4 linked regions of the Homo sapiens genome follow. The protein of the gene in region 1 interacts with the protein of each later gene in a pairwise test. Each region holds a gene or a part of one and is shown on either strand. Other genes may lie near its edges. The genes, in order: DESI2, NFU1, ARFIP1 and SEMA3G.

Region 1 (7,044 bases):
TATATGTAAGAATATATATATTCTTCTCTGTGTTTCACTGGATTGTAAGCTTCATGAGAGTAGGATCATGTCTGTTCTATCACAGGTGAATTAGTGACGCAGAGGCTGACACATCAAAGGTACTCATTTAACACTTGTTCAATGAATGAAGGATGGATGATTCATTATTGATGGATCAATACCTGAATTACATGAGCAGCATAACTCATTCCATCATTAGATGATGAATTCTATTTTGTACCTGATAAATTCAAAGTAACCATGGGCCATCCTGTGTGGTAGGGCAGAATCCCAGCCCCCCCGGGAGATGTTCACATCCTAATCTCCAGAATCTGTGGCTGTTGCCTTTCATAGGAAGAAAGGACTTAGCAGGTGTGATTAAGGATCTTGAGATGGAGGGAGACTCCTCAGTTATCAGGTGGGCCCAATCTAATCACAAGGCTCTTCATAAGTAAGAAGGAGAAATAAGGGAGTCAGAGAAGACATGATGATGGAAATGGCGTGTGGGGTGGGGGGTGGGCACTGGAGTGACGGGGCCATGAGCCATGAGCCAAGGAATGAGGGCAGCCTCTAGAACCTGGGAAAGCAAGGAAGCAGATTGTCCCCTAGAGTCTCCAGAAGGAACACAGCCCTTGATGTTAACCCAGGGAGACCCATTTTGGACTTCTGATCTCTAGAACTATAAGAAAATAAGTTTGTGTTATTTTAAACCACTAAGTTTGTGGCAATTTGCAGCCAAGGGAAACCAACACATCCTGTTAGAGAAGTCCAAGAGGCTGTAGGTTATACTGGCCTAGCACTCTGGAGAGAGAAGAGCACCGAAGATGGAGACATGCGGCTCTTCAGTATACATGCAACAGTTACAGCTGAGAGTGGATGAGATCACAAAGGGCAAAGGGAGTGTGTACAGTAAGAGTTAAAGTGAATCTATGGGGACTGCAGCCAGGACTAAATAAGGTGCAAATGCACAGTGCCTTTTCCCCACCTTTCACAGGAAAAAGGGCTTAGCAGATGTGATTACGTAGTTTGTAATTGCTTAAGGTGGGGAGGAACACCATGGGAGGAAAGAGAAGCAAGGCAGCTGATGCACCAAAAACAGGTTTTAGAACTTTGTCAACAACCTTCCAGAGGACAGTCAAGTAATGATGTGCACAGCATTTACTGTCCCCCAACACTACCTGACAAACCATATTTTCCAAGTTTACTTATTTCCTCTATTTTACATCACCTTCTGTCTCTCCAAACTCCCTATGCCCCTCTCCTCACGTCTTACTCTTTGAAGACATTCTTGCCTCATAATTCACTGAGAAAGTAAAAGTAAATCAGGAATAAACACCCTCATTTCCTACACTCCCGTATTTCTAACCTGCCTACCCGTCTCCGTGCCTTCTATGCCGTAACTGTGCACCTGCATCTGCCTTCTATGCCATCACTACAGATGAAGCATCCCCCCTACTAAACAGCAACCATTAACTTGTGTCCTGGATCCCTCTCCCTTCTTTGCCCTTGCAAATCTTTCCCTCTCCTATATCAATTTTTCTCCCTTTACATGCAAGTATGCCTCAGCATCTCCCATCTTCAAAATGCCCTCCATTGACCACACCGCCTTATCCAGCTGTTGCCCCCAAGTTAAGTTGTCTCCCTTTTGTCACCTTACATTTGCTTCTCAAACTGTTAAAGCAGTTATTTAAATCTCACTCCTCCCAGAGACCGCTCACATCAAAGCTACCAGTGATTTCTATATTGCTGAATCCAATAGTCTTGACATCAATGTTATCATGTTCTTTCTGATTTTCCTCCTGCCTCCGTGCTTCCTCTTCATACTTTACTTGACCTCTACATGGTGAAGGGTCCTAGAGCTTTGTTCTTGGCCCACTTCTTTTTAGCTACACATATTCCTAGGTCATCCAACCAAGCCCCAAGTCTATAAATGGCCATGACTCCAGTTTATTCAAATGTCTACTACTTGGCAGTCATGGATGTCTAAAAGGCATCTCAAACTTAGCATGACCAAACCATAGCTCTTGATTTCCCTACCCCCAGCCTGCTCCTCCCCAAAATGTTTCACATCTTAGAAGTGCCAGGACTATCCACTCAGTTCCCCAAGTCAAAAATCTAGAAGTTATTCTCGAATCCTCTCTCCCTAACCAACTCAACATCTAACCCATTAGCAAGTTCCACAGACTTTACTCCAAAATATTTAAACTCTAATTATTTCGGTCTCCACCACTATCAGCCACAACGAAGCCACTTGCTGGCATGCACTTCTGGAACAGCATCCAATTGGTGGACTTGATTAACTTTTGCCACATAACCACCCCCAAAACTTTGTGACTTAAAACATTATTTCTCACATTCTGTGGGTTGGCTGGTCAGTTCGTCCGATCCATGTGGTTGTGGCCAGGGAAGGATAGTCCGGGAGAGCTTCACATGTTCGCAGTTGGTTGGTTGTCAGCTGGATGTGGGCCGTGACTTGACCACGTGTCCCTCATCATCCATCAGGCTAGCCCACACTCATTCCTAAAATGGTGGTCACAGGACTCCCAAGTTCAGCAAGAGGGCAAGCCCCAACTCACAAGTGTTTTTTAAGCCTCTGCTTGCACGATGTTAATGTCCCACGTCCACAGCAAGTCACAGTCCAGTGCAGTCAGTGGGGGTAGACACCACCAAAGAGTATAATTTGGGAGACTGGAAATAATTTGTGGCTATTTTCACAATCTGCCACACTCATCTCCCTATTTCCACCTCCTTTGCCTCTCTGAAATCCATTTTCCACACAGCAACCCAAGTAATCATTTTTAAACACACGCACACTCATTTCACTCCCTGGTCCAAACTTATGGCTTCGTTTAAAATACAACCCCTGTTATGAATTTTAAAATCCTTCCGGGATCTGGCCTCTGCCTACCTGCCCAGCTCATCTAGTACCGTCGACTCCTTGCCTACTGTGTCCCAGCAAGAGTGATCTTTTGTTTCCTTGAATACAGAAAACTCCTTCATGCTTCAGATCTTTGCATTTGTTCCCTTTGACTGAAATACTCCTCCCCCTCATATCTGCGGGGCTGGCTTTGTCATTCACATTTCAGCTTAAAACTCATTACAGCGATCTTCCCCGTGCAGCCAATTTAAGAATGACTTCACCTTACTTAAATTTTCTGCAAAGCACATACCAGTGATATTTTGTATGTCCCTGTTCCTGTTTATCACGGCATTCCCGAGGGCCTACAACACTGCCTGGCACATAGGAAGCACATAACAAACATTTGTTGAATTAATGCAGAGCTGCATACTACGTCCCAGGATTGTGCTAAGCTACGGTTACTGTACCCTTCCCATCTCAGCAGGATAGTTTCACAAAATGTAAATTCCACATTGAGGATTAATTGGATGCACGTTACACCTCATCCCACACCAGTAACTCGTCTTCCTCTATTTCCCCACCACTCCCCTTGCCAAATAAAAGGTGAGGAAGCATTTGGAAAACTTAGGGTCATCACTCTGGTCTTTTGCCACATTTCGCTGGCTTCATCGAGCTCAACGCAACATGAACTACTAACAGCAGCAGCACCTGAGATGAGAGGGTGAATGAAGGTAGGAGATTTCACCGCCCGCGGGCGGCAAGGGATCTGCCGCAGCTCTAAAGCACTGCATGCTGGGAGTTGTAGTCTCCCGGGGAGGCCTGGTCTGGTAGGACCGGGGCCCCCGCGGCATGCAGGGAGTTGTAGTCGAAGGGCTGTTGAGACTCCGCCTCTGCACTTATAGTAGCAAGGGGGAATCCTCACTGCATGCTGGGAACTGTAGTCTTCCTGGGTCCCCGTTCCTCCAGGACGCGGAGGCGCCGGAGTTGCCGCCATTTTAGGTCCCGAGGTGCGCCGGCCGAGAACCAGAGCGCAGGCGGGCTCAGTCCTGGCGCCGGGCCGGCCCCGCCCCCGGGGCGCCTGGCGCCCGCCCCTTGCTCAAGCCCCGCCTTTCCCCACGTGTCTGCCGCCTAGGGGAGGTGCCTCATCCGGAGCGGGCCGCCAACGGTCCGGCCCCGTCCGCACAGACGCTCCTGTCGGCGGCGCCCGGGAGCGGCTCGGCTGCCCGATGCTTCCGCCCCGGCTGCCGCGGGCCGGGCTGTACGCTTAGTGCCCGGCTCAGGCCCCCTGAAGCGCCCGCGGGGGTGAGAGCGGCCTCCGGCCCCGCGGAGACGGAGCGGCTTGAGGACGAGGCGGCGGCCGCGGGGAGGAGGATGGGGGCTAACCAGTTAGTGGTGCTCAACGTGTACGACATGGTGAGTGCGGCCCCTGGCGGCCCCGAGCCCTGGCCCAGGCCGGCTTCCTCTCGCCCGTGGGGCTCGGACCCCGGCCCCAGGCGCTTCCTGCCTGGCGTCTCCGCCTCCAGCCTAGTTCTCGGGGGAAGCCGGGGGTGAAGGAGGGAGTATTGTTATTTTTTAATCCTCGCACTCGTCGACGCTCCGGTGAACCCAGTCAGCCCGAGGGTTTTGGCCAAAGCTCGGGTGGGCTTGAACCTCTCCCATCCGCTCAGCTTGGACCCGACCCCGGCTCTGGGCCCGACCCCTTGGCCGACGTGCAGTGTCCTTTCGGCAAAGCTTCCGTTGCGTTTCCAACCCCACTTGCCGGCCCCCGGGGCTGCCCCGGGACCCCCGTCCCGACCGCCTGCGCTCCCAGCTCCTCTGCTTCTGCCGAACTGTCCGTCTCTCTCCATGGCTACGTCTTCAGAAACTCCCAAGCCCCTCTAAGTCCAGAAGGTCACAGCTTTCGGGTGCCTGTGCTAGAATCTCTTCAAAGGTGAACAGGAGCCAACACACCCTTTCCTTGTGTGTTAAAGGCAACCTCGTTAAAATATGAATGAGGCTAACATTTCTCAAGAAAATAGCCCAGCTGAATTATTTAGAGATCCTGGTGGTGCTCCTTTCCTACACTCTGAAGACCACTTTCCAGGTGATGCAACAGGTGACGTGACCACGGGAGAGGGAAGGGAAGAAGTTGTTTATTGTATCATCTAACTTTGGAGTATGGCAAGCACGCAGAATCGAGTCCAAGAACTGGTTTGCCTGATTTTTGCAGTGAAATGCCCCCAGAAAAAAGCACCCGGTAGAGAATTGTCGTTGCAGTTAGATGCATGTTTGGGTGTGTTTGCTTGCTTTGTTCTGTAGAATGGGTTTTTGTTCTGTAGACTGGATTAGTACCTCTGACTGCAGTGCTTAAAATTCCTTGTAAGTTGACTGACAAATGAAAAATTGCCCGTCGTTATTTTTGTTGGCTTAAAGATGCAGGAGAGCAGAAATACTACAGGCCAAGAGTCTTATACAGTTCTAAACTTTGTATTCCCTTGTATTATTTATAAGTTTCTAAATTTACAGTGTTATTATATCTTGGGTAGAGTGGGATTTCTCATGCCATATCTGGGAATTGTGTCAGAAGGGTGTAGGAACTGCCTGCCACTTGAGATGAGTCCTCTGTTGAATTCTGATGTGAGCCTGGAGATGAAAGGAGATGAGTTAACATGCTGAGAAAAGTGGAACAGGACAGAAAAAGTTGAAGAGGAGAATAAGCCAAACAAAAGATCCTAGAAAACCATGGCACTTTGTAAGTTCTGTGGCCTGTGTCACTGGTTGAGAAATAATTCTCTGGATTTAAACTTTTTGTGTTCAGCTGAACACCTTTATCTTTCAAGACTCTTAACTGCCCTTTTACTTTCTCTGTGCACATCCCCCTAATCTGAATTTGGTTTGTTTTTTATTCATGAGGGCTATTACTGTCTTTCAGAATATATTCTGCTCTTGAGATCACAGTGTGCCTTTTCTCCTAGATTATTAAACAAACCCGTATTTAAATTAGGAGTATACAGTGGCCAGAAGCCATGGTTTCAGAGCCTAAAAGAATTTGTGAGAATAGAGGAAGAGAGTTTTACCTTTTATATGAAAACGAAAATGCATGTTTTGGCATATAGTGGGCTTCTTTACACTTGAGGCATTCTGTGATACAGGAAAATCTGCAAATTGTGGTCGATTGGGAAAAGCTAGAGATGGTATTCAGTATTTTCGAAGGGAGGACTGTTCTGAACGATGTTAAAATATTGACTAATGAGCGAGATCTTATTCTTCACATCAAGTTTGTAAAATAGGTAGTTAGAGAAGCAGCAGACAGGGGAGAGAGTAAGTGATCTGCCTAAACAACTAAAAATACAATCTAGAATTTGTAGACCAAAATCTGATTCACTATCTTCTCTACTAATTCCTGCACTTATGTCTTTATATTGCTTTTGCCTGTGAACAGGAGATGAAGCATATGAATGTTTATCGGAATGATAAATAGTTGAATTATTAGACTTTTAATAAACTTGGTCTTATATGTTCTTTTGAGGGCTTTGAGTGTTTTATGTCACTAATTCAGCAACCTACCATTACTTATTATTTTTGACCTGGTAGAAGCCACAAGGATGAGTTAACTGTCCTTTCTTCTTTAAGGAATTTAGAGTATTGTAGAGGAGATACACAACAGTGGCAACAATTCAAGACAGAATAGCATGGTTTTGATAAGAGCAGACAAGGATGCAAAGGAGGAGACTATGTAGTTGTAGGATCAGGGAATGCTGAAAAATCAAAGGTATGAAACTTGAAGAATGGGTAGCATCCACAAGGACAGAGAACAATTGACGTGAACAAAATGGCAGGAATAGGGAAAGCGCAGGTGGGATTTGGGAACTATCAGCTGGTCCAGTATAACTAGAGTAGAGCATAAATGAAAGGAGACAAAACTGAAAGTTTGATTAGAACTTCTTTAGTCAGATGTGTTGTGGGCTTGGGTGAAGGGCTGAGGGGGCTCCTTGAGCCAGCAGAACCATTTAAGGTTTTCATGGAGGGGAACAGTGTGATCAGTTGTTTAGATTGAGATACAAATTTTGGTCTGTTATACTAATTTTTCTCAAGTCAGTTTTGGTTTTTGAAATATTTTTGTTTGATGCCAAGGGTAAATTCCTTTTATCTTTGGTAATTCTTCCTATTCATCAGAGATGCTTTGGATGAGGGTTGCTGTTGTC
Region 2 (7,022 bases), on another chromosome or scaffold:
GCACTTTGGGAGGTAAAGGCAGGTGGATCACAAGGTCAGGAGTTTGAAACCAGCCTAGCCAACATGGTGAAAACCCATCTCTACTATAAACACAAACGTCAGCCAGGCGTGGTAGTGTGCGTCCGTAGTCCCAGCTACTTGGGAGGCTGAGGCAGGAGAATCACTTGAACATGGGAGGCGGAGCTTGCAGTGAGCCAAGAATGTGCCACTGCACTCCAGCCTGGGTGACAGAGTGACACTCAGTCTCAAAAAAAAAAAAAAAAAAAAGGCCAGGTGTGGTGGCTCACACCTGTAATCCCAGCACTTTGGAAGGCCGAGGTGGGCAGATCACCTGAGGTCAGGAGTTCAGGACCAGCCTGGCCAACATGGTGAAACCCCGTCTCTACAGGGGTTTTGTAGAGGTAGGGTTATTTTGTAGAGGTATTTGTAAAAATACAAAAATTAGCCAGGCGTGGTAGTGCGCTCCTGTAATCCCAGCTACTTAGGAGGCTGAGGCAGGACAATCACTTGAACCTGGGAGGTGGAGGCTGCAGTGAACCAAGATTGCGCCATTACAGTCCAGCCTGGGCAACAGAGCAAGACTCTGTCTCAAAAAGAAAAAAGAAAAAAGAAAATGAACCTTCTGAGTAAAAAGAAATCCTCCATCTTACAGCAGTATATTTAAATAGACTGACAATACTATATAACAATTAAAATTTATTCAGTGCCTGGCCGGGCGCAGTGGGTTATGCCTATAATCCCCAGCACTTTGGGAGGCCAAGGCAGGCGGATCACCTGAGGTCAGGAGTTCGAGAACAGCCTGGTCAACATGGTAAAACCCTGTGTCTACTAAAAATACAAAAATTAGCCAGGTGTGGTGATGTGCGCCTGTAATCCCAGCTACCTAGAAGGCTGATGCAGGAGAATTGCTTGAACCCAGGAGAGGGAGGTTGCAGTGAGCCAAGATCCAGCCACCACGCACTCCAGCCTGCGAGACATAGTGAGACTCTGTCTCAAAAAAAAAAAAATTATTCAGTGCCTATCATGCACTGGGCAGGGTGCTAAGCACTTTACATGTATTATATCATTTAATCCTTACATACTTTCAATGAGTACTTTCAATACTTACTATTTTTATCTTATTTTATAATAAGGAGACTAAAGGTCACTCAGCTACTAAGTGACAGAGCCAGGATTCAAAGCTGGACAATTTTCTAGGTGCTGACTTTCTTAGCCACCGTACATATTGCTAATCCTTATCTAACATTGCCAGGCATAATAGGAAAATACATTTAAGATCAATCTTCCTGTCCTAATTTTCACATCACCTATTTTAGGAGAGAGAATAGAATATCAAAAAGCAACAGTTTTATTTTAAATTTGAAAGAGTTTAAATTTGGCAAAACATATGGTTGGTACAAAAATGCTTTTCTTAGTCATTACAGAAAAAGTTCTAATTTGACAACTGAGAGCCATTTTTGTACTTTGCCATGCAGTTCCAGCTAGCTGAAGTTAAACCATTTCATGGATAAAGAAAAAAATTGAAAGTGAACTCCCATACATTTTGTTTAAATCCTTTTTCTAATTAGACAACCAGACAATTCCTAAAAAATGAAAAAATAGCCGCAATGTCCAAGTACTTCATTTAAAATATGTATATTTCTAGTAAGACATTCTTCTGAAAATCTGTGTTATAAGGGAATGATTTTTCAATGACACATTAAAGAAAGGGCTGCCAACACTTTCTGTAAATAATCTTCTAACTCTGGCTCTGAACCAATCATTTCTTGCAGCTTGTATTAATAATTTATTGCTAACCAAAATCTGCACACAGTACTCTACCAATATTTGAAAAATTAAATCTGGCTTCAACTGGGTGCATCAGCTCACACCTATAATCCCAGCACTTTGGGAGGCCAAGGCAGGAGGATCACTTGAGGGCAGAAGTTCGAGACCAGCCTGGGCAACAGAGATCCTGTCTCTACAAAAAAATACAAAAATTGGTCAGCTGTGGTGGCATGTGCCTATAATTCCAGCTACATAGGAGGCTAAGGCAAGAGGACTGCTTGAGCCCAGGCAGTAGAAAATGCAGTGAGCCAAGACAAAAAAAAAAAATCTGGCTTTATTCTACTCAATCAATTTGAGAAAAACTACACCTGCAGAAAGCAAAATTTTTAGAAATCCTTGAGGGTAAAAACTACAAATGCAAAATAAAAAGTCACTTAAGAGCATATACTCTATACTATCTAAAGTAGAAAGTATGAAAATGAATGACATCATCACAGAACTTTTTACTGTTGACAATAAATAAAGCTATTACTAAAAAACTAATTCAGGCTGGGCACGGTGGCTCACGCCTATAATCCCAGCACTTTGGGAGGCTGAGCCAGGCAGGTTACTTGAGCTCTGGAGTTCAAGACCAGCCTAGGTAATGTAGTGAAACCTCGTCTCTACAAAAAATACGAAAATTAGCTGGGTGTGTTGGTACGCACCTGTAGTACCAGCTACTTGGGAGACTGAGGTGGGAGGATGGCTGGAGCCCAGGAGGCGGAGGTTACAGTGAGCCAAGATCACATCACTGCACTTTAGCCTGGGCAACATAGTGAGACCCTGCCTCAAAAACAAACAAAAAAAAACACCTAATTTGAATAGGTACTTAACAAAATCATTACAATTATAATCTCAATTGGGTTTAATTTTGTATTTCAAAAATGACTCCCAGGTCCATCATCCAGAAAGATGCTCATGAAAATGTCATGAGACTTACAACAGGAAACAGGACAGAATGATAAAAAATATTTCTTCCTTTTTTTTTTTTTGAGACAGTGTCTCACTCTGCTGCCCAGGCTGAAGTGCAGTGGCATGATTACAGCTCACTGCAGCCTCAACCTCCTAGGCTCAAGTGATTCTCCCACCTCAGCCTCCTGAGTAGCTGGGACTACAGGCATGCACCACCAAGCCCAGATAATTTTTGTATTTTTTTGTAAAGACAGGGTTTGACCATGTTGCTGAGGCTGGTCTTGAACTTCTTGGGCTCAAGGGATCTGCCCGCCTCAGCCTCTCAAAGTGTTGGGATTATAGGCATGAGCCACCATGCCAGCCTATTTTTTCCTATTATGCTTGGTACTAATAGGTACCTAAGGAGGTAGATGTAAACTCCCCCAAAATACAGATTAGTGGTGCTTAAAGTCAATATCAATGACTAAAATTAATGGGTTTCCTATTTGAAAAGCCTATATGACCACATATTTCAGTCCTACAAAGTTTAAAAGTCCAATTAAAGTGGTTTAATCAGCTGAGTTACTCAGTATTTACAATATTTATATCTAAGCTATTCTGTGATCCAAGCAGTCAGGCAAGCCTGCAGGAAAGTGTTCCTCTTCTGGCCCCTGGCTACAGAAGGGGTAAGGTCTACCCTGATTTAACTCACGCCCTTAGCCAGAATCAGCCAGAGTATGGCCACAGGAATGTGTTCAAGCTAGCAATGGAAAGGAGAGGCTGAATTTATATGCTTACAGCTCCATAACACATATAGGTATACATTTACATACATACACACATGCAGACACACATACCCTCTCCCCTTAAACTTCCCTAACTCTACATTACAGTCATCACACTTCAAATTATTTTAAATCATATCTATTTCCCAAATTAAAGAAAATTAAAGTATATATCTCGTTAACAATCAAGATTATTAACAAAACCATAGTAATTAATTTTGACAAAAAAGCTTTTCTTTCTTTTTTTTGAATGTAGTTTTTTACTACATTCAAAATCCTGTGTTCTAAGGTCTGGATGAAAGCCAGAAATTTACTAATTTTAAGGGTATTCTTATCCAAAAAAAGGACAGCAGTAGCTTTAAATACATAGAATTCTTTGAAACACAATCCCCATTTGAAACTTCTTTTTGAGACAGGGTCCCACTTTGTCACCCAGGCTGGAGCACAGTGGTGTGATCACGGCTCACTGCAAGCTTGAACTCCTGGGCTAAAGGGATTCTCCCACCTCAGCCTCCCAAGCAGCTGGGACTACACGTGTGCGCCACCATGCCCAGCTAATTTTTTGTATTTTTTGTAGAGACAGGGTTTTGCTGTGTTGCCCAGGCTGGTCTCAAACTCCTGGGCTCAAGCGATCAACCTGCCTCAGCCTCTCAAAGTACTGGGATTACAGGCATGAGCCACCACACCCAGTCAGATTTTAACTTCTACAGTATTTTCATTTTGGAAATCATTTATTGAGCAACTCTTGTGTTGCAGGGGATATGTTATACAACATACTGAGATTTCATAGATCTATTGGACAATATCCTTGCAAATACATTTTCTACTTAGAAGCCTATAAGAAAAATATAGCTTTTTTTCCTATATTCTATCTATAGGCTTCTAAATAGAAAATATACAAATTCTCATCTTTTATGATCCACAAAATCCTAGCACAGTTCCATCAGTTTCTGAAACACAACTGCTATAAAAGAGGTGAAATTTTACCTGGGTGATAAAAGGCTGCAGGTAGTGGGAAAAGTGGTCTTTGTACAAACTGATGCAGAGGCTGTTTCTTAATGGTGTATGGATTCTTCAACATATGACAGAACCTGCATTTAAAAGCACATAATGAATGACATTTTAAGAGCTCTAATCTTTTAAAGTTGGTTTCTACTTCTCATGTATAAAAAAGACCTATGTAAAATTTAAACATAACCCGCAATAGAAATAATTAGAGAACTGACTTTTCATCTTCCATCTACATTATTTCCACTTACTTAGGCAAGCAATATCTACAAACAATTCAAAATCAGGTAGAGCTCAAATGGAAATTCCTACCCTTGATAACCGGGTGTGCACAGGATAATATAACATTGAGGTATAAGAAACAGAATTGGGCTGGGTGAGGTGGCTCACGCCTGTAATCCCAGCATTTTGGGAGGCCGAGGCAGGTGGATCACGTGAGGTTGGGAGTTCAAGACCAGCCTGACCAACATGGAGAAACCCCATCTCTACTAAAAATACAAAATTAGCCGGGCATGGTGGCACATGCCTGTAATCCCAGCTACTCAGGAGGCTGAGGCAGGAGAATTGCTTGAACCCAGGAGGCAGAGGTTGCAGTGAGCCAACATCATGCCATTGCACTCCAGCCTGGGCAACAAGAGTGAAACTCTACCTCAAAAAAAAAAAGAAACAGAATTGTATCTACATTAGTAATTTATAACCCATAGTCCCAGACTCTTGGTTATACAGGAAGGAAGCAAATAACTATAAGCTTTTTTATTTTTTTAAAAAATTTAGAATTAGGCAATAGAGTCACATGGTTCAAAACTGGTAAGGGAAAAAAGCATAAATAGTGAAAGCCTCCCTCCTTTCCTGTCCCTTACGTTTCCCTCTCTCAAGATAACCTATATTACCTGTTTTGAAAAGTATTTCAATACTTCAAAAAATCTAAAAGAAAGTATACTATTGGGCCAGGGGTGGTGGCTCACGCCTGTAATGCCAGCACTTTGGGAGGCCAAGGCAGGTGGATCACCTGAGGTCAGGAGTTCGAGACGAGCCTGCCCAACATGGTGCAACTCCATCTCTACTAAAAATACAAAAAATAGCTGGGAGTGGTGGTGGGCGCCTGTAATCCCAGCTACTCGGGAGGCTGAGGCAGAGGAATCGCTTGAACCCAGGAGGCGTAGGTTGCAGTGAGCCGAGATCGTGCCACTGCACTCCAGCCTGGCCCAAAGAGCAAGACTCCATCTCCAAAAAAAAAAAAAAAAAAAGTATACGACTGTCCTTTTTGTTTTTGAGATGGAGTCTCACTGTTGTTGGCCCAGGCTGGAGTGCAATGGCACAATCTCGGCTCACTGCAACCTCCATCTCCCAGGTGCCAGCAATTCTGCTGCCTCAGCCTCCCGAGTAGCTGAGATTACAGGTGCCCGCCACCATGCCTGGCTAATTTTTGTACTTTTTAGTAGAGACAGGGTTTCACCATGTTGGCCAGGATGGTCTCGAACTCTTGACCTCAGGTGATCCTCCCGTATCGGCCTCCCAAAGTGCTGAGATTACAGGCATGAGACACCACACCTGGCCCGTCTTTTTTTTTTGAGACTGAGTCTCACTTTGTCGCCCACGCTGGAGTGCAGTGATGCGATCCCAGCTTACTGCAACCTCCACCTCCTGGGTTCAAGTGATTCTCTTGCCTCAGCCTCCCTAGTAGCTGGGATTACAGGTGTACACCATCACACCCGGCTAATTTTTATATTTTTAGTAGAGACAGGGTTTCACCACGTTGGCCAGGCTGATCTCCAACTCCTGACCTAAAGTGATCCACCTGCCTTGGCCTCCCAAAATGCTGGGATTACACAGCCAACGATCTTGATCACGCTTTTCGTGTTTTGTTTTGAGACAGGGTCTTGTTCTGTCACCCATGCTGGAGTACAATGGTGTGATCAGGGCTCACTGCAGCCTCAACATCCTAGGCTCAAGTGATTCTCCCACCTCAGCCTCCCAAGTAGGTGACACTACAGCTGTATGCCACCATGCCCAGCTAGTTTTTTTTTTTTTTTTTACTTCTGGTAGAGATGGATTACCACTATGTTGCTCAGGCTGATCTCCAGCTCCTGGCTCAAGTAATCCTCCCACTTTGGCCTCCCAAAGTGCTGGGATTATAGGCGTGAGCCACCATGCCCTGCCTTTTATATGCTTTTTGGATGGAAACATATTAACCCAGTGTTGTAACTTCACTTCACTTTTTTTTTTCTTTTTTTTTTTGTGAGACGGAGTCTTGCTCTGTCGCCCAGGATGGAGTGCAGTGGTGCGATCTTGGCTCACTGCAACCTCCGCCTCCTGGGTTCAAGCAATTCTCCGCCTCAGCCTCCCAAGTAGCTGGGATTATAGATGCCCACCACCATGCCCGGCTAATTTTTGTATTTTTAGTAGAGACAGGGTTTCACCATCTTGGCCAGGCTGGTCTTGAACTCCTGACCTCATGATCCACTAGCCTCGGCCTCCCAAAGTGCTGGGATTACAGGCGTGAGCCACAGCGCCAGGCCTCTAACTTTACTT
Region 3 (7,835 bases), on another chromosome or scaffold:
CTCCATCTTCTGACTTCGTGATCCGTTCACCTTGGCCTCCCAAAGTGCTGGGATTACAGGTGTGAGCCACCATGCCCGGCCTATATCAAGGATTTTATCCCAAAAGAATAATTATAGATGTAAAAATAATTTCTTACAAATGTATTAGTTTTCTACTGCTAATGCAACAAATTACCACAAACTCAATGCCTTAAAACAACACCCATTTATTATCTCACAGTTCTGTAGATCTTAAGTCCAGGTGGGCTCAACTGGGTCCTCTGTTTAGGGTCTCACAAGGTAGAAATCAAGATGTTGGTCAGAAGCTGGGCTCTTATCTGGAGGCTCTGGGGAAGAATTTGCTTCCAGGCGCAATCAGATTGTTTGCAGAATTCAGTTCCTTGCTGTTGTAGGACTATGGTCCCTAGTTTTTTTGGTTGGCTGTTGGCAGGGACTACTCTCAGCTTCTAGAGGCTTCCCTCAGGTCCTTGTCTGTGGGAAATTGTCATTTCAGCAATGGAGAACATTCCTCCTGTAGAGTCTCTTTCACACTTTGAATCTCTCTGACTTCCTCTACTGCCACAAGCAGGAGAAAACTCTCTGTTCTTAAAGTGCTCACTTGATTAGGTTAGGTCTACCTAGAATATTGCCCTTTTGATTAATTCAGAGTCAATTGATTAGCAACCTTAATTATATCTCCAAAATTCCCTTGCAAGTAACATAACATAATCATGGAAGTAATATCCCATCATGTTCACAGGGAGAGGGAATTATACAAGGTAAGTGTCACTGGAGTTCATCTTAGAATTCCACCTGCTACACGGGACTATTCCCTGCATTGCTATATAATTACAGACAAAATTGAAAATATGCAACAAAAAGGATTCATTCAATAAATTACAAAATATCTACATGCTGAAATACTATTGTGCCACACAAAGAGAATATTTAATGATATGAAAAAATTCCATGATACATTAAGTGAAAAAAGCAAAATATAAAATTATATGTCAACAAATACAACATACACTAAAAATTACATCAGAGCAGAGGCTCATGGTTATTCCTACACAGCTCACTTCCAGCAAACCATAGGGTGTCAGTAGCAATTTGTTAAATAAATGAAGAAATATATATCTACATAGATATAAAGAAAAAAAATACATTGACCAAAATGTTGAATGTTCTCTCTAGGTAAATGAATTATAAATAAGTTCAGTTTTTTCCTCTTTATAGTTAAAAACATTTTTACAACTCTAATGTTCTACCTTTTTTTTCTTCCACAACAGTCATCTTAGAATAATGTTCTACTTTTGCACCAAGTTATTAAAAAAAAAATCAGTATCAGAAAACATAAAGCTGGCATTCTTCCCATTCAGAATCTCTAGGAGTAATGAGTCACTCTCCTTTCATCAGTAGTTTATACCCCTCTGCAGAGAATCAACTACTTTCCAAACTTAAGACAGCACTCACTCATTGTCTTCTACAGATAGATAGCAACTATATCCACTTAATCCTACTTGTACCATTACCCTAAGTAGCAGGAGTTGCTGGTATTCTTGAACTTGCCTGGTATGCAGCAGACAACATATTTCCATAACTCAACTAGAATTGGCCAATTTCCTGGTGTTATAAGAGAATCAAGTAAGTCCAAAGTTCAGTTTCCCAAAAACCATCTTATTTATCATGGGAAAACATGCAAGACAGTAGTATAAAGCAGACTGAAATGGGGGCTCAAATCAAAGGCTGTAAGATCCAAAAACAGGGAAAAATGAATTCTCACAGGGAGGATAAATAATGGGTTCATGACAGAAGTAGCATCTGAACTCAACTGTAAAGGATGGATAGGTACATCACAGGTAAGGAAAAATAGGAAAACATTTCTGCTGATAAGAATAGACAATAAAGCATGGAAGAGGGAAATATGCACTTTGAAGCATATTAAACATTTCTTTGCAACTAAAGTTTCATATCTATGTCTATATTGGTATTTATACCTATCTCTATTAGTTGGCTAAATTAGCACTTTTCCTTCAGGTATATAAGAGAGTGCTCATTTGCAAGATTGAGGCCAGATCTTGGTAAGCCTTTAATGCCAGGATAAAGAATTAGACTTCATTGAGTATGCCACAAATGCCATTCAGGGCTACTAGAGTTCCCCACAAGCCCAATGAATAAATAGCACCTGATTTTTCAAAAGCCAAATAAACAGCCAATAGCAGTGCAAAGTTAAATGAGTAGATAATCTCCATGTCATAAGTATATATGGAAGGCAGCTATTCCCTTTTTTCTTACCTCTCTAAAAATAAATGACAATTCAGAGAAAAGTAGTAATCTTCTATTCTAAACAAAATGAGCAGGCAGGGTCCCCCAAGTTTTAGGGCAAAGGAAGAAAGGAAGAAAAGAAGGGAGGGAGGGAGGAAGGAAGGAAGAAAAAAAGGAAGGAAGGAGGGGAGAAAGGAAAAAAGGAAGGAAGGGAGGGAGGGAGGGAAGGAGGAAAGAAAAAGAGGAAGAAGGAAGGAAGGAGAAGGGAGGGAGACAAGAAGGAAAGGAGGAAAGAAAAAGAGGAAGGAGGGAAAAAAGGAAGAGAGGGAGAGAGGGAAGAGAAAACAAGTCTCCTCTAAGCAGGGCCAGGCTTAAAATGATGTTTTTCAGTTAGTACCAAAAATATTCCCCAATCCAAAGAACGCTGGTTTGCTGCTTCCATTGTCTCAAAGGATGTATAGAATTCCACTATTTTCCATCACCAGCTGAAGTAGTTTCTAGTGTTTTCTTGGAGCCAGACTACATTCTAATTTCCTTCAGGGCAGTGGAAATCATGGAAAGATTAATCCTGTGTATATATAGCCTTGCACAGCGTAATACTGTGGATGAGGATTAATCGTACACAGTACCAGAATTCACTGAAGAGTATCTAACTTGGTTAGCATCTTCACCAAGCAGAAGTTAGCATTAGTTCCAAATCCATCTGAATCTCCATCAAAACCATCAGCAGCTGCCAAGGAAACTATGAACAAACTAAAGCAAGTCTTCACCTTTCCAAAATAAGAAACACTTCAGAGTCTGACAGTCTAATAGTTAGACTAACTTTAGTCAAGCTAAGCATCTCCAAACTCAAGAGACAGCTAGCAGGAATCTTTAAGATAACAGCCAGCAAAAACAATTTAGTATTCATTGTCCACATCATTCAAGCACCGCTGAGTCCTACCGTACACTTCCTCCAAGTCACCCTTCTGAAACCCTAGGAACAACACTTGTACTTAGCTGCAAGTTCTGTAGTTGCTCAGTTCCTACACAATTACAGCAGTAATTAATTTAGATTGGGATTATTTTCTTATAATTGAGAAGACTAATGGTCTCCAAACCAACAAGATGGCTTTGTACAGAAAAATCCACAGTAAGCTATAACAATTGAAGTTACAGTTTGAGTGGGTTGGCATATATATTTGCTCCTTTCTTTTGTTTAAGACAGAACCACTTAAGATAAGAGATTTATGTTTTGGAATTTCAGTACTATTTTTTTAAGAGGTGGTATCCTAGAGAGCTCAATCAATATTGTTATACATTGGAAACATTTATGGTGCCATAGGTGTTTACTATTCACAGATCTGGGGAAGATACCTGCCAGGGATATTTCACTACACTGAAACTCCCTGGAAATCTGTAGAGGTAGAGCTCTGCCTTTGGGCATTAGTCATTAAAAATATCTTGTCAGCTACTGTGACAAGTAAAGGCAGCTGAGAAGTACGGTCTAAAGAAGGGTAAATCTCGCCGTGTGCACAGTTACCCTTCGCATTTCTACAAGTGAAATGGGAGTAAAAATGAGCATTCAAAGCTGTCAAAGGAAAAGCAGTCCAGCAGTTCGAAGGGATATTCTGTGATGGACCAACTGTATGGTACAGTGTGTAAATGAACTTCAGGTCTATCTAGCGCCACGGGGGAGCCACGCTTTCGCACCACTGAGCTCTGGGGATGGGGAGAGTAGTGCAGGTTGGGGCCCCGTTTAGGAAACTACGAAGGGCTCTGAGAGAGCGAATTGTTCAGCAGTTTCCGTGACAGAACAATGATCTATTTAAGAAGTAATGGGGCAAGCAAAGAAAGCAGAGCTCGGTCATCCGGAAAAAGAAAGAGGAGCCGGAAAGAAAAGTATCAAGGAATCTACTGTGAGAGAGCGAGCAAAAAGCAAAAAGCGATCACAAATCCAGAGCAAGTAAGAGCTCAGGGATGCCGGGCCCGGGGGTCTAGCCTTTCTGAAGGGAGAGGGCTCCCCAGGCACGGGGGCAGCGCGAGGCAGCGCCCGCATTCCGTCTGCTGCCTTATCTTCGCATTCTCCCTACCACCCCCACCTTCCCCCCGGGACTGGAATAACCTTCTTCGTGCTCTCCGGTGGCTGAGAAAGCAGCTTTCGCTCTTCTGTGGTAGCGTGGAGGTGAGGTACATCTACCTCCACCCTCCCGGCACCAGCTCACGGTCTGTTGGGGGGGTCCTCCTAACGTGTGAGGCTAGGGTGTGTGAATGAAAAAGAGGGAGGCGGAGGCCTCCTGGAGACCTTCGACCTCTCAAGACCAGGCAGGGGCGCCCTTCCGCAAGCTCCCAGCTCTAGCCGGTGCCTCTGGCCCCGCGCGCATTAGGTCGCTGCCAGAAAATTACCCGGGCAACGACACCGCCGGAGTCCCGGATGTGGTTGCTAGGGCAGCAGAGGGAGGGGCGTAGCCCGCCTCCCGGAGAAGGGCGGAGGGATCCTCGTGGGAGGTGCGCTGACACCACCGAGACGTGGCCGGGCAAGGCCGGATTGAGGGAGAGAGAGGCCGTCCAGGGCCAGGGACAACGCTACTTCCGGTCTCCTCACTTCCGGCTTCGCTGCTCTTGGTTCTGGTTCTGGAGGCTGGGTTGAGAGGTCGCCGGTCCGACTGTCCTCGGCGGTTGGTCAGTGTGAATTTGTGACAGCTGCAGTTGCTCCCCGCCCCCGAGCAGCCGAGGTGCGTGGGGGAAGGGGAAGAAGGAAAAGGTCCGGGTCGCGTTTCCGCTCAGTTTTTGCCAGGGTTGAGGCGATTCCAGAGAGCGGCGGAAAGGATAAGCCTCGACTTAGAAGCTACCGAGTTACCCTAAGAAAGGTGAGGGCGGAGCTGGCTCGCCTGGGAAAAGGCGGGGGAAAGATGGTTTGAGGTGGCTGGTGGGGCGGGCACGTTGCCTACGGGTTCACCGTTCCGAACTTTCACAGGGCACGCCTCTCCTTAGTCTGTGCCGTATCTGCCCAAGTGTTATGCCTTTGGTTTCTTCTGTCCTTCATTCCTTCTGTCCCTCTGAGTGTGCCCCCGAAACAGTCGAGTGAAGGTGTAGGACCGGCCCTTGCAGGGAGGCACTCTCTTGGCTTTGCATACATTGGGTGGGAAAAGGAGTTGCAGGATCCAGAATCCGGACCTTTCTTGACAAAGTGTCGGAGTGGGCCACCTTCAGGCTTGCTGTCCAACCCTCATTTCTCCCCTCTTCTCCCTGCATCCCCAGCTTCCTCTCTCCCGCAGTGGGAGGAAGGGAGATAGTGACAGTCCCTCTGAGAGATTCATCTGGCAGTGGTGCAGAGAGGAGTCTTGCCTGTGAAATGTCCCAAGCCTGACTAAGGAATGCTGGAGTTTTGGAAAGGGAGTTGTTCGATTGTCTTCTGCTCCGTTCCTGTTTGCCAAGTTACTACTGTTTACGTGTCTAGGAAAAGGAAATAATTTTTTAAAAACAGTTTTTAGATGCTAGACGTTTTTCCCTTTTACTTTATTTTGTTATTACTTCCTTTGTTTTGTTCTTACCTTCCTCTTGAGCCCTTTGATTTCAAAAAGTTTACACTTTATACTTCCTGCAGATCCTTTGGCCACTCTTAGGATTTCTGTCCCCCGCCCCTACCCTGTTTTCTCCTAAAGTATAAAATTCATCTAACTACATTATTATTTGATAAGGAAAAGCCGGAAGAGATCCAGAACTTCGCATAAACTTTTGCTTTCATACTTTCACCTGTAAGGGTGTGTTCATGTTTGCCATTTAATTAACTTAATTGGCATAGAAATGTGCACCAGAAATGGTTACCTTAAGTCAGCCGTCTGTTAAGGCTTCAGGAATTGGCCTTTTCTTTTTTCTTTTTTTTTTTTTTTTTTTGAGACAGAGTCTCACTCTGTCGCCCAGGCTGGAGTGCATTGGCACGATCTCGGCTCACCGCAACGTCCACCTCCCAGGCTCAAGCTTTTCTCCTGTCTCAGCCTTCTGAGTAGCTGGGTTTACAGGTAGGCGCCACTACCGCCTAGCTAATTTTTGTATTTTTAGTAGAGACGGGGTTTCACCGTGTTGGCCAGGCTGGTCTCAAACTCCTGACCTCAAATGATCCTCCCTCCTCGGCCTCCCAAAGTGTTGGGATTACAGGCGTGAGCCACCGCGCCCGGCCGAATTGGCCATTTCATTGCTGTTCTCTCAGAGCGGCTACAGATTACTATATTTTACTGCTGCCTTAATTCTGCTTTTCTTTCGTTTGTCCTGTGGTGTTTTTTGTTTTGTTTTCCTTGCTTAGCATGACCCACGTCTTCTCCCAACTACCAAGTCTAACACACTTTTATCTGAGAAAAGAGAAAAGATTTCTAATGTATTTTGTGGATTAAATCCCTGCCTCAGTTACTTTAGTTTCTTTCCAAATTGATAAACTGGTTTTCCTTGGATTATGATTTGCCTTAATCCTGGATGATGACTTGGGGTTCATGGCCTAAGGGTCAACAACTTTCAGGGGTCTTCCTCATTCCCACCCCTGAAATTATATGCAGTTTTGTTTGAGTGAATTTTTTTCCCCCCTGGGGAAAGTGTCCATTGTTTTTATCAAATTCTCAAAGGAGATATACAGCCTCTTGATAGATTAAAACCACCACTTAGGCAGTGTCTTGTTGAAGTTAGTGAAAACAGGTTTTGTGTGTGTATGTGTGTGTGTGTTTTCCACTTAGGCAGTATCTTGTTGAAGTTAGTGAAAACAGGTGTGTATGTGTGTGTGCTTTCCCAAACTGTGCAAAGGAGATATATAGCTTCTTGATAGATTAAAACCACCACTTAGGCAGTGTCTTGTTGAAGTTAGTGAAAACAGGTAGGGGTGTGTGTGTGTGTGTGTGTGTGTGTGTGTGTGTGTTTTCCCAAACTGTAAATTGTTTGCTTTGGGACCAAGGAAAGGAGAATGCAGGGATTCTTCTAGTTTGATATTGAAATCTCTCCTTTAAAACATTAGTGTTTCTAAATTCCTTCCTAGACTTACAGAAGGAAATGAGGCTGCCCACTTTATTTCCTGATTTGTGGTTTTGAGGTTTCTTCTTAGGGATAGCTGTTTGTGGTCCATGCTCTGGAGATCCAGTGGATTTACAAACTGATGTGCCTATCTTTAATATGTATTAAATATCACCAACCAACTAGGCACAGTTCAGAGTAAAAAATTTAAATTCTAGTTGTATTTTGCTTTCATTTTCTTAATTTTTTTTGCTTGAGGCATGTACCTTAGGATTTGATTTGGCTTTGCTATGAAAAACAAACAAGATGTTTCAGTGGTGTGGTCCTTTGGAATGTTGTTGCTTATCTTGACATCCCCTTTCCCTCCATTCTGTATGAGATATTTTAATGATTGTTTCTCTCTTGTGAATACGTTAGTATCCTTCCAAGCTTAATGTAAGTTTTAGAGTACATATTTGAACTTACTGATTTGGTTGTGAATTATTTGTTGATTGAGGGTTGCAGTTCTAAAGGTCTGATACTTTTTTTTTTAGAATGTTAACTTGAAGAGACCTATACAGCTCATCATAGTCTATCATGAGTATCCAGTTTCTTCTGCTCACAGAATAAGTTTTCCT
Region 4 (7,022 bases), on another chromosome or scaffold:
GGTAGGGACAGAGGGGCAGGGGCCTGAAAGGCGCCTTTGTGTTGGGGAGCTGACCCCATTAGAGGGGCCCTGGATGAGGACGCCTTCCGCCCACCCCCGCTCTCTGGCCGCACGCGAGGGCTCCTGCTTGGGTGTGGGCTGCTGGTGCTTCTCTCCCAGGTGACGCCCCTCCCTCCCTCTCTCCCTCCCACTAGCATGTGCTCCACCTGGAGCCTGGCAGTGTGGAAAGTGGCCGGGGGCGGTGCCCTCACGAGCCCAGCCGTCCCTTTGCCAGCACCTTCATAGGTGGGTGATGCCCAGGCCAGGGTGAGAACAGGGAGGGTGGCAGCTGGCCTATGTCACTGGGAAGGGAGGGACCCGGCTGCTGGGCCTGGGCCTCCTCCCCTGACTCTGTTCCCCAACCCCCACCCCAGACGGGGAGCTGTACACGGGTCTCACTGCTGACTTCCTGGGGCGAGAGGCCATGATCTTCCGAAGTGGAGGTCCTCGGCCAGCTCTGCGTTCCGACTCTGACCAGAGTCTCTTGCACGGTGAGGCCTGCCCCTGGAACTGGCAGGGGTGAAGAGGCTACCTTCCCAGCTAGGACACCAGCCTCCAGTGGGAGTCCCCTGCCCCATTCCTCTCCCCACTGGGTTCTACTCCCATCCTCCCCTGTGGGGCCCCTCCACCCAGCATGACCCTGTCACCCTTCCAGACCCCCGGTTTGTGATGGCCGCCCGGATCCCTGAGAACTCTGACCAGGACAATGACAAGGTGTACTTCTTCTTCTCGGAGACGGTCCCCTCGCCCGATGGTGGCTCGAACCATGTCACTGTCAGCCGCGTGGGCCGCGTCTGCGTGGTAAGAGCTGGGAAGGGGTGGTGAGGTTCAAGTCCCTGCTACACCCTCCCATTCCCAGACCTTTCTCCCCCCACCCCTGGCCAGCAGTAGGGAAACTGAGGCAAGGATGCAAAGCTGACATGCATACCTCTCCCCGAGTGGGTGAGGGTAGAAGAGTGGATGGTGGGACCCATCCTCGTGGGGCCCAAGCGTGACTCTGGCCCCTTATCCTGCAGAATGATGCTGGGGGCCAGCGGGTGCTGGTGAACAAATGGAGCACTTTCCTCAAGGCCAGGCTGGTCTGCTCGGTGCCCGGCCCTGGTGGTGCCGAGACCCACTTTGACCAGCTAGGTGAGGGCCTGGCCAAGCAGGCCTAGGGCTCGGGAGTGGGGAGGGCTGAGAGCTGGTGAGTCAGGGCATTGGCGGTGGCCATGACACTCATACTCCTTTCTCTACCCCAGAGGATGTGTTCCTGCTGTGGCCCAAGGCCGGGAAGAGCCTCGAGGTGTACGCGCTGTTCAGCACCGTCAGGTGGGCACACCCAGCACCCCGGCCTTGCGATGGGCCCCTGTCTTTGTCCCTGATTCGGTGACCTGTGACTGTACTCTCTGACTCTCTCTTTGCCTTTGCCTTGGGGTCTTTGCTTTTCGGAGTCTCTGCTTGCTGCAGGCACTGTCACCCTCTGTCCTGCCCATGGAACCAGGCTGTTCCCTTCTTGTCCTTGATGGCCACTCTGGCCTGACTGTCCCATGTGCCCCGGCAGTGCCGTGTTCCAGGGCTTCGCCGTCTGTGTGTACCACATGGCAGACATCTGGGAGGTTTTCAACGGGCCCTTTGCCCACCGAGATGGGCCTCAGCACCAGTGGGGGCCCTATGGGGGCAAGGTGCCCTTCCCTCGCCCTGGCGTGGTGAGTATCTGCTGGGGCCAGGCCAGGGAAGCGAGGCCTGAGCAGATGTGGGGAAGGGCTCCTTGGAGTGGCCTCATGTCCCCATGCACCCCCACGGCAGCGGACGTTGGCCAAGCCTGGGCTCCAGAGGGCCTGGGTGGGGTGGGGTGGGTGTAGTGGAAGAGGAGAGCCCTCCTGCAGTGAGAGAGGTCCCCCTGGTTGGGGTGGAAACAGACTGGCGGTGGAGGGTGTGTGCTGTCTCAGGATACTTCAGGCACTCCCTTCCCTGCTGCCCACAGTGCCCCAGCAAGATGACCGCACAGCCAGGACGGCCTTTTGGCAGCACCAAGGACTACCCAGATGAGGTGCTGCAGTTTGCCCGAGCCCACCCCCTCATGTTCTGGCCTGTGCGGCCTCGACATGGCCGCCCTGTCCTTGTCAAGACCCACCTGGCCCAGCAGCTACACCAGATCGTGGTGGACCGCGTGGAGGCAGAGGATGGGACCTACGATGTCATTTTCCTGGGGACTGGTAGGACAGCTGAGCCAGGGTGGCCAGGCTGGAGAGGGGTGTGGGGTCTCTGGCTGTCCCCTCCTGTCCCGCTGACCCCTCCTCCCTGGCCCCAGACTCAGGGTCTGTGCTCAAAGTCATCGCTCTCCAGGCAGGGGGCTCAGCTGAACCTGAGGAAGTGGTTCTGGAGGAGCTCCAGGTGTTTAAGGTAAGCAAGGGGCTGATGGAAGGGTCCCTCCAAGCCCCATCTCTGGGTCTGAGCCTGGCTACAGGGATGCAGGAGCAAGCCCAGTAGGGAGCCAGCCTGTCTTTACTGAATTTGCAGCTGGCAGGATGCTGGGGAGGGGATGCAGAAAGAGATGCCCCCCCTCCACCCCGCACCTCCGCTGTGGCAGAGGCCTCGCAGCCACTTATGAATGACTGGAGGCCCAGAGCTACAGCCTGTGAGCTGAAAGTGCCTGGGGTGCTGGGAGGGATGGTCAAGGGAAGCAACCTTCTGCAAACCCCTGTAGGACTCAAGTTGCAAGGAGGAGATGGTTGAGATCCCAAGGCCCCTAGATGTTCTCTTGGCCCCTCTAGAGACTCAGGAAGGGGGTCATCTGTGTTTGGGGGCCTGTTGTGCCTCCTGGACCTGAGCTGGGTAATTTGGGACAGCTGCCTCATTGCTGGGGAACAGGCTGAGAGAGGGGACACTCTAGCTCTGTGCTTTCAGTCAAGCCTCCTGCTTGGAGGCCAGCCATGACCAGGGGGCCTTTCTTGTAACCCATCGTCTGGGAAAGACTGTCTAGCCTTAGCTGCCAGGGAGTGCAAGACCCAGCCTGGGAGCTAGGTGGTTCCCACCCCAGGGTTGGAGGAGACTGAAAGCAGGGGTGCAGGGGCAGGTCTTGGTCCACCCGACCCACACTGAGACCCTTCTCCTTCCCCAGGTGCCAACACCTATCACCGAAATGGAGATCTCTGTCAAAAGGGTAAGAACAGCTGCCACCCTCCTCTTGGACCCCCCTTCTGCCCCTGCTCCGCAGCCTCCTCCTCTGCCCCTGCTCCGCAGCCTCCTCGAGCTCCACTGTAGTCTGGGGAAAGCTGTGCTGAGGCAGGCCTGATTCGCCCCTGCAACAAGTGGCCAGTGGGCACTGGAGGCACCGAGTAAGTGGGGCCATGTCCAGATAAGGGGATAGTCACAAAGGCCAGTTCCTAAGGGAGGCAAAAGTGTGCCTGAAAACACAAAATCCAGATGTTAAGTCCAACAAGGCCACTTTTTAGAGGCCTACTATATTTGCCAAGTGGCAAAACCCGTCTCCCCATATTTATCTGCTCCAGTGTATCTTTGTGTAAATCCTAACTTTCGTGCAAGGGTTGCTTAAAGCAAGGTGCACCTCTAAGGTCAGGGACAACTCAGGATAAAGGCCCCTGGGATAGAGGGCAAAGGTCAGCACCTGGGAGGGCCTGGAGAAGCCCCTTAGAGAAAACATCCCAGGTCTTGGTTCTCCTCCATCCCTTCTGTGTCCTGGCACAGAATCTGGTATGCAGCAGATGGGTGATAAACACTTTTTGTTTTTTGAATGAATCCAAGAGGTTCTGGAAGACTTCCTGCAAGTGGCAGGGGTCTCAGGAAGCTGAGGGGCTGAGAGCCTGGCTGCGTGTGGGCGAAGCCTGGGCTCACCTCAGGCTCTGCTTCTGTCCCTCCCCAGCAAATGCTATACGTGGGCTCTCGGCTGGGTGTGGCCCAGCTGCGGCTGCACCAATGTGAGACTTACGGCACTGCCTGTGCAGAGTGCTGCCTGGCCCGGGACCCATACTGTGCCTGGGATGGTGCCTCCTGTACCCACTACCGCCCCAGCCTTGGCAAGCGCCGGTTCCGCCGGCAGGACATCCGGCACGGCAACCCTGCCCTGCAGTGCCTGGGCCAGAGCCAGGAAGGTGAGTGGTGGCAGGTGGGAGGGCCCAGACTGGGCTGGAACTCACCCCTGTGGCCCGGCTCCACCCCTGCGAAGTGCATTCTCAGATTGGTCTTGTCATGACGGATAGTCCTCAGTTTCCCTCTCTGTGTAGCTCCTGCTAGTGCATGGAAGCAGGGTCTTTGGACACAGTGGCTGGCTTGGGGATCCACGCATGCCTAAGTTCTTGTCATACTAGTGGGGCTCCTGAGCTGTGGTGTCAGGTGGTGGCACTGGGATCTGGGTCCCATAGTTCCCAAGCTGAGCCAACCTCTGCCTCTCTCCAGAAGAGGCAGTGGGACTTGTGGCAGCCACCATGGTCTACGGCACGGAGCACAATAGCACCTTCCTGGAGTGCCTGCCCAAGTCTCCCCAGGCTGCTGTGCGCTGGCTCTTGCAGAGGCCAGGGGATGAGGGGCCTGACCAGGTGAGTGAGGAGACCCCTGCCTCTAGCCTCTGTGTGTCCTGAGGTCACCTCCCATCCTGAACCCCAAGACCTGAGCCCCAGAAAGGGGTTCTGGGGGGAATCTGCCAAGATTAACCTAAAAAAAGTTTGTATTAGGCTCCTGGGGTGCCTAGAAGGAGGTGCCCTATTTTTGCCTTTTGGGAATGCCCAGGCCAGATGTGGCTGGAACTCCCCCAGTCTGAGGGGTGGGTGATGGAAGAGAGAGAAGAGGGTCTGGGCAGGCCAGTAAGTCTCCCATGTTTACACACATGGCTCATCTTTGAAGGATTCTCTTCTCCAGGGGTTCTTGGTTCTCTTCTGCCCCAGGCAGGGGAGGGGGCTGTGCCCTGGGCCCAGGACTAGGCTTCAGAACCTCCCTATGCTACACACACACAACAGAAGAGAACCTTCTGGGTCCCTAACCACTGGTCCTTGCCCTCCACCCTCAAAGCCTGGCCCCACACTTCCTCCCTGGAGTCCAGCTGTCTGCTCAGGGCCTCTCCTCCCCCATCCGGAAAGGTCTATCAACCCCAGGGATGGTTTAAGTCTGGGGCCTGAGGATGGGCATTGGCCGGGGCAGGGAAGGGGAGGGGCAGGAGTGGATTGATTACAGGAGGGGCTCTCCCTCCAGCCTGGGAACTGGGGGAGGCCAGCCTTGGGCCAGCTGTTGGGCTGGGCACTGAGAAGATTCCCCAGGGGAGGAGGGGAGCAACAAGATGGTGTTTCACAACACTAGCTAATGGCTCAAGCAATCCACCCCCAACACACAGATGTGCAGACTAAAACCCACACAGGGTCCAGGCCAGAGGCGGGCTGGGATCAGGGCGGCACTCCCACTTCCCACGCTGTGATGGGCGATCAGCCCACCCTGGGCTGGGGCTGTCAGCTCGCACCGTTGGGGGAATGAACGGTTCAGACCAGGATGGGAAGGCCCTGTGTGTGTCTCTGTGTGTGTGTGCGTGCACGTGCATGTGTGCGTGGGCACACGCACATTGTATGTGTGTAGCATAGGGAGTTTCTGAAGCCCAGTTCTGGGCCAGGGGGCACAGCCCCTCCCTTGAGAAAAGCCTGTAGATGGGATGGTACCTCCAGAAGGGCTAAGGGGATAACATCTTAGCCCCTATGTTCCTTGGGAATGTGTGCCAGGGCCCTCTGAGGCCAAGATTGGAGTCCTCTGACTAAGGGAGAAACCAGCCAGTCAAATCCTTGAGAAGGCCCCTTCCTGGGCTATGGGAAGGTGAGGCCCCACCTGAATTAGCTGGTGGTCTAGAGGAGGCCCAGACTGCCACGCTGCTGGTCCCCTCCTGGGAAGGGGAGAATAGGGCAAGAAGTGCCCAGGCACTGGGCCCCAAGGATGGCAGAAAAGCTGGGGCAGAGAAGCCGATGGTAAACTCCCACCTTGCACCCTACTCACGCCCTCCCGCCCGCATGGCAGGTGAAGACGGACGAGCGAGTCTTGCACACGGAGCGGGGGCTGCTGTTCCGCAGGCTTAGCCGTTTCGATGCGGGCACCTACACCTGCACCACTCTGGAGCATGGCTTCTCCCAGACTGTGGTCCGCCTGGCTCTGGTGGTGATTGTGGCCTCACAGCTGGACAACCTGTTCCCTCCGGAGCCAAAGCCAGAGGAGCCCCCAGCCCGGGGAGGCCTGGCTTCCACCCCACCCAAGGCCTGGTACAAGGACATCCTGCAGCTCATTGGCTTCGCCAACCTGCCCCGGGTGGATGAGTACTGTGAGCGCGTGTGGTGCAGGGGCACCACGGAATGCTCAGGCTGCTTCCGGAGCCGGAGCCGGGGCAAGCAGGCCAGGGGCAAGAGCTGGGCAGGGCTGGAGCTAGGCAAGAAGATGAAGAGCCGGGTGCATGCCGAGCACAATCGGACGCCCCGGGAGGTGGAGGCCACGTAGAAGGGGGCAGAGGAGGGGTGGTCAGGATGGGCTGGGGGGCCCACTAGCAGCCCCCAGCATCTCCCACCCACCCAGCTAGGGCAGAGGGGTCAGGATGTCTGTTTGCCTCTTAGAGACAGGTGTCTCTGCCCCCACACCGCTACTGGGGTCTAATGGAGGGGCTGGGTTCTTGAAGCCTGTTCCCTGCCCTTCTCTGTGCTCTTAGACCCAGCTGGAGCCAGCACCCTCTGGCTGCTGGCAGCCCCAAGGGATCTGCCATTTGTTCTCAGAGATGGCCTGGCTTCCGCAACACATTTCCGGGTGTGCCCAGAGGCAAGAGGGTTGGGTGGTTCTTTCCCAGCCTACAGAACAATGGCCATTCTGAGTGACCCTCAGAGTGGGTGTGTGGGTGCGTCTAGGGGGTATCCCGGTAGGGGGCCTGCAGGGAGCCAGAGGGTGGAAATGGCCTCTAAGCTAGCACCCCGTAAGAAGAGCCTACCTGACCGACTTGGGGAGGGAACACAGAGGTGTTGGGAAGGTGG

Evidence for each region.
Region 2: the proteins of DESI2 (region 1) and NFU1 interact in binary tests that used the Homo sapiens proteins (3 or more experiments, as listed by UniProt).
Region 3: the proteins of DESI2 (region 1) and ARFIP1 interact in binary tests that used the Homo sapiens proteins (3 or more experiments, as listed by UniProt).
Region 4: the proteins of DESI2 (region 1) and SEMA3G interact in binary tests that used the Homo sapiens proteins (3 or more experiments, as listed by UniProt).

What each region holds. Positions count from the first base shown.
Region 1 is NC_000001.11:244,649,083-244,656,126, forward strand, and holds the start of DESI2 (deubiquitinase DESI2), read left to right. Parts: upstream 1-4,043; 5' UTR 4,044-4,231; coding exon 4,232-4,273; intron 4,274-4,830; exon of another isoform or gene 4,831-4,850; coding exon of another isoform or gene 4,851-4,943; intron 4,944-7,044. UniProt on the Homo sapiens protein: Has deubiquitinating activity towards 'Lys-48'- and 'Lys-63'-linked polyubiquitin chains. Deubiquitinates 'Lys-48'-linked polyubiquitination of RPS7 leading to its stabilization.
Region 2 is NC_000002.12:69,427,433-69,434,454, forward strand, and holds part of NFU1 (NFU1 iron-sulfur cluster scaffold homolog, mitochondrial), read right to left. Parts: intron 4,574-7,022; coding exon 4,470-4,573; intron 1-4,469. UniProt on the Homo sapiens protein: Iron-sulfur cluster scaffold protein which can assemble [4Fe-4S] clusters and deliver them to target proteins.
Region 3 is NC_000004.12:152,775,134-152,782,968, forward strand, and holds the start of ARFIP1 (arfaptin-1), read left to right. Parts: upstream 1-4,820; 5' UTR 4,821-5,093; intron 5,094-7,835. UniProt on the Homo sapiens protein: Plays a role in controlling biogenesis of secretory granules at the trans-Golgi network. Mechanistically, binds ARF-GTP at the neck of a growing secretory granule precursor and forms a protective scaffold.
Region 4 is NC_000003.12:52,435,082-52,442,103, reverse strand, and holds part of SEMA3G (semaphorin-3G precursor), read left to right. Parts: intron 1-194; coding exon 195-285; intron 286-413; coding exon 414-530; intron 531-694; coding exon 695-840; intron 841-1,055; coding exon 1,056-1,170; intron 1,171-1,280; coding exon 1,281-1,350; intron 1,351-1,582; coding exon 1,583-1,727; intron 1,728-2,005; coding exon 2,006-2,237; intron 2,238-2,332; coding exon 2,333-2,424; intron 2,425-3,142; coding exon 3,143-3,184; intron 3,185-3,904; coding exon 3,905-4,133; intron 4,134-4,437; coding exon 4,438-4,577; intron 4,578-6,030; coding exon 6,031-6,501; 3' UTR 6,502-7,022. UniProt on the Homo sapiens protein: Has chemorepulsive activities for sympathetic axons. Ligand of NRP2.